Regions from separate parts of the Homo sapiens genome. Here region 1 is linked to region 2. The links come from fine-mapping of genetic effects on gene expression. Tissue or cell type: CD8 T cells. Region 2 holds a variant in brackets; the other region holds the start of a gene. All regions are shown on one strand. Distances are from middle to middle.

Evidence for each region. PIP is the estimated chance that this variant, and not a neighbour inherited with it, causes the effect.
Region 1: it holds the start of ERICH1, and the variant in region 2 is fine-mapped to the expression of ERICH1 in CD8 T cells (Kasela 2017, PIP 0.95). The same link has a PIP of 0.9 or more in CD4 T cells.

Annotation. Positions count from the first base shown.
Region 1 is chr8:729,960-732,459 of GRCh38, forward strand. It overlaps ERICH1 (glutamate rich 1), which reads right to left and starts at 1,265. Exons shown (of 6, transcript NM_207332.3): 1 at 1,181-1,265. The coding sequence starts at 1,202.
Region 2 is chr8:634,440-637,054 of GRCh38, forward strand. It overlaps a transcript of ERICH1 not described here. Among named protein-coding and RNA genes, the nearest start is that of TDRP, 91 kb to the left of the region's middle. The variant A/T (reference allele first, on the strand shown) is at 1,004.

The sequences.
Region 1 (2,500 bases), 95 kb after region 2:
CCTGCAGTAGCAAGAAGCCCCCCACCAAGAAGGCAGGCACAGCTTTGCAGGCAGCTGACCGTCAGGTCTGCTCCTAAGAACCTCGACACTGAATTCACAGCCTGCCAGCCCTGCTTCCAGGAGAGGGTCATGAACAAGGTATTTCTGGTGCTCATTAACATACGTGAATGTCCATTTTAGAGCCTAGCATGTGACTGCTTAAAAACTCTTAGGTCATTTTTAACCTGTGAGCTGATCAGGTGACAATTCCCTGGTCCTGAAGGAGAGGGGGAAGCCCACGTGCAGTGTGTCCCTGAAAAGGAAGACTTGAGACCATATTTTTCTCCACATTCTGCCTCACTGAGAAATTTTTTCTTTTTAAGCAATTGTTTTATAACTATAGTTTGCCATTATCTTTTCATTTCAAAGGGAAAAACATGATTATCAGTTTTAAACATAGAGAAGGAAAAAAATTCATCAGCGCCTGAATTAATCCAAGTAACACGAGATTCATGTCAAAAACCGCCACTCTTTTCATTATGATGATGATTACACGGTGAGGGTAATGAGCTGGGGTTTGCAGGAAGCAGGAGCACGCTTTATTTTCTAACACTTCCGTTCTAAGGCACGGCCAGGTTAACCAATTCTATTTATTCTCCTCCTGTCTTTGGTACTAATGCTATCACAGAATTTAATAAGCACTAGGATGCGCCCCACACCTTAGGTCCACTGAAGGTAAACACCATGACCTCCGTCTCTCAGATGAGGACACAGTGGCTCTGGGAGGTTCTGCTGTACTTTTCGGTGAGGCTGCCGGAGCCGGCTGCAGCCCCACCCCGGAGCCCTGGGCTAGGACCCCTCTGAAGAGCTGAGCGGCTCCTACTCACTCACCAACAGGGGCTCTGCTAAGAACACGAATCCCTGGCTGGGCTCGCCTCCGCCCAGGACCCCAGACACCAGGTGGGGCCTGGCAGGGCCGGCCCGACCAGCAGCCATGCAAGCAACAACACGGGCGAGGGGTGGGCCGCGGTCCGGGGTAAGAGCGGGGGATGGGTAGGGACTGGGGTGGAGGTGGGGAGTCGGTCTGGGTTTGGGGTGGGGCCTGGAAAGGGGCCGGGGTCGGGGTCCCGAGTCAACACCGCGGTCTGAGCCGAGAGCCGGGTCTGGGGTCTGGGCAGGCCTCCGCACCGCACCCACCTACCGTGCTTCCTGTGCGCCGCCATGCGGGACCCTGCCGCGGACCTCAGACCACGGCGCGCGGTCCTGAGCTGAGCGCCGTGCCTTCCGGGTTCCGCCCTCCTGGGTCCGCCCACAACAGCAGGAATGCCCAATCCGAATACGGGACCCCGCCACGGGCGGTCAGTCAACTACATCACGGCCGTAGATTGGCTGATATCGAGTCTGTAGGCGTGTCGCGAGGCTCCAGACCCGCCTCTGGGAGCCCCGCTGTGGAGCATGCGCGGAGGGAGGGCTGCGGGGGCGGCGGTGCGGGCTCTTGGGGACCTGAGGACGCTGTGAGAGCGCTGGCGGCGACTGCTCTACGCGGTGGCGGAACTCTGGGGGCGAACGCTAGGGAGGGCGTTGTGGAGAAGAGGGGAACGGAGGGCCCCAGAGGAGAGGCGCCCACCCCCAACCCCACGGGTGCACCTGCGGATCCCCAGTCCCCGCTTCGCCCCCAGGCACCCGCCGGACACAGGGAATGGCCAGGGCAGTGCCCCCGGCCCCAAGGCACCTGCAGGATACAGGGAGTGGCTAGGGCGGTGTCCCCGGTCCCCGGGCACCTGCGAGACACGGATAGTGGCCCTGGCTGTGACCCCAGCCCCCAGGCACCTGGAGGATATAGGGAGTGGCCAGGGCGGTGACCCCTAGCCCCTAGGCACCTGCTGGATACAAGGAGTGGGCAGGGCGGTGTCCCCGGCCCCCAGGCACCTGCAGGATACAAGGAATGGCCAGGGCGGTGTCCCTGGCCCCCAGGCACCTACAGGATACAGGGAATGGCCAGCCGGTCCCCAGACACCTGCTGGACACATGAGTGGCCAGGGCGGTGACCCCAACCCCCAGGCACCTGCTGGACACAGGGCATGGCCAGGGCGGTGTCCCTGGCCCCCAGGCACCTGTGGGACACAGGGAGTGGTCAGGGCAGCGGCCCCCACGTCACCCCGGCTTGCCAGACCCCTTCTTGTCTCCCTGTCCAGCTCCAAGGGCCTCTGCCCTCCCGCTCCACCCCCTCAGGACCCTCCTCCTTGAATTCGTTTCTTCCAAAACATTTCCCAGGTGTGTGCCAGGCGCTGTTCCTCATGTGGGCTGTCTCAGGAGAGGAACCCACGGAGATGGGTGTTTTGGAGGAAAATGAAGCTGGTAGGGCCTAACTGTAGAGTGATGGGCGCGGGCTTGAGGTAGGTGAGGGAGCAAGACTGGGGGTGCCCAGGGAAAGAGAGCCCACAGGAGGGAAACGATGTCCCAGGAGAACGGCTGCCCTGTTTGAGTTTGGGGACCAGAAGCAAGGGCAGGATAAGGGGAG
Region 2 (2,615 bases):
CACAGCATCCAGCAATTCGTCTCCTGGGCGTACACCCAAAACACTGAACAGGGTCTCGAGGATACGTCTGCACACCCATGCTCAGGGCGGCCCCGTCGGGCGGGCACCTTCAACAGCAGGTTTGCTTGCGGCTCACTCCAGCTCTAAGCACAGTGCCATGCGTGCAGTAGGTGCCCACTGTGTGCGCAGAAGGACAGCTGGCGGAGCAGCCGGACCAGCCCCCACGATGGGTGGGGGGCTGCCGTGGGCACCCACTCAGCTGGTCCCGGGTGTGAGAGGGGCCGCTGTGACACTGAGTCCCACGCGGGATGACCTTGGCGACCGGAAGCCTCTGCACTTCCAAACCCCGCTGAGCAGCCCAGGTCAAGCATCAGAAAATCAGGGAAAGGTTCTTTTTTGTCTCTTAAGAGTTTTGCAGCTCTATAGCCTCTCTCCTTCCAGGAATCAGGTAACAGGGCAGCGTCCCGCAAGGACCTTGGGAGCTGGGGCTGTGGCTGCCCTCTTGGTGCCTCTGGGGAAGGAAGGAGGGAAAGGGATCACGGTGGCCGTCGGAGTTCCCTCCTGCAGCCTGGCCACCCGTGGCTTCAGACCGCACCTGGGGGTGTCCCAGGCTTTGGACACTCAGGGACGTGGACTCAAGGGGTTGCCGGAGCCACTCAGCTAAAAAAAAAAAGCACCTCACCAGGAGTGGGCGTGGCCGCATCTGCCTCTCCCTGTGACCATTTCATGGTGACCTCTGTTCAGGAAACCCCCCGAGGACAGGCCCCTCAGCCTCAGGAAAGAGCCAGGAAATACACATCCGAGCTTATGAGTTTCCCTTGAGTTGCGTCAGGTCCATAGAGAAAACAGGCGTCTAAGTCTGTGATGGAGCCCCCCACACGGGTTTATCCGGGTATAACGGATAAACGCCAAGCCCGGGCCGTTGGGACCAGCCTGAGCTTCCCTCCAAAGTCCCCGCAGGGCTCATCACCACTAACAATAGTGACAGCTAAGGCTGGCTGTG[A/T]GAGGGGCTGTCTAGGGCGTTCACCTGCACCAACGCCCCACCCAGTCCCCACCTGTCCTCCCTCATACATGGGTGGTCTTGGGAGCCCAGATCACAGCCCGCAGGCGGCACAGCTGTGGTCGACCTGGACGTAGTGGCCAGCCGGCCCGGCCCCGACCTGCCAGAGGACCCTGCGGGATGTGTCCAGGGACTCCCAGCAACCCGTCCCTGCACCCTCACGCTCACCTGTCATGACTGGCTTCCCAAGCAGGGTCCCTGGAGGCTCTAGCAACGGGGTGTGAGCACACTTGTCACCATCGAGTGGGGCCGACGCTCCCCCAGCGTGTGTGTGTGTGTCCGTGAGTCTGTGGTCCACATGCGTGCTGCACCCCACAGCAGGGACGGTTGGCTCACCAAAGTTTGTGTTCAACCAACTCTGGATCCAAAACGCAGCAGGTCCTTCAAAGGTTCACCCCATTTAACTTGCAAGCGGCTCTTACGCGGCAGGTGCGGTGATTCCTCATCCTGCGAGCCGTTCAACCAGGGCGAGAAGGCCTCCGCCTCGGCAGAAACAGCCCAAAGCTGCACCTTGCCAGGGCCACCTGGTGCAACGAGGCTGTGGGCTCCTTCATGCCATCTCTCAGAGAGGCAAAAGCTGGGATCCTGTTAATAGCATTCTCTGTGGAAAACACTCAGCCTGGGGCTAATGTCTGGCGCGCTCTAAGGCGGCTGAATCCCTGCGCCCCGGCCACCTCCACTGCCCTGGGCCGAGCTGAATCCCTGCGCCCCAACCACCTCCATGGCCCTGAGCCGAGCTGGGCGTTCACAGCCTCCCTGAAGCTCAGCTGCGTGGCCACGTGGGGTTGCACGTCAACTGGGAACTAGGTGCAGCCACAACCAGGGAGCCAAGGCCTCGGATGTGTGGAAATCATTGATGGTTTCTGCTAGAGACTGTCCTTCTGGTCACGGGATGCCTTTTCATCGTTCCTCCCTCATAGAAAATACTCTTAGCTGTTCCCAAAGGAGACGGCCCAGAGTGCCTTCCTCTCCCGACTTTAGCTCAGAATCGGGGCATCTGCCTGGGTTCTGCCCCACGTGGGCCCAACAGAGTCTCCTCACGGACGGAGGCCTGTGCACTGAGCACAAGCCCTCCACTTACCCTCAGCCCTGTCCACCAAACCCTCAGCACTGTCCCACCAAATGCACAACAGCAGACAGGACACCTACAACAAAAGCGCAGTCCAAATAAAGGGTCGCTGCTGCAGTGGCTGTGCAGCCTCCGACACTGTGACCTCTGGGGAGGAACGGTGCAGACCTGGCCTCGGCAGGCAGCTCCCTGATGAGGCCCCAGACGTGCTCCCCTGAGGGGCCAGGAGGGATGCTCTGGGCTCTGCCCTCCCGTCCAGAATCCTCCATGACTTCCAGGCCACGTGTTGGGAGTCACCTTCTGAGCATTTCCCAGCCTGCACAGCCCACTTTCTGCAGGGTCGGAGGGTTGGTTCAGGACTTCCTTCTCAGCATTTCCCAGCCTGCACAGTCCACTTTCTGCAGGGTCGGAGGGTTGGTTCAGGACTTTAAGCCAGATTGCAAACGCACCGAAGGCGTCCAAACCAGCTCACCAAGCCTGTTCCTT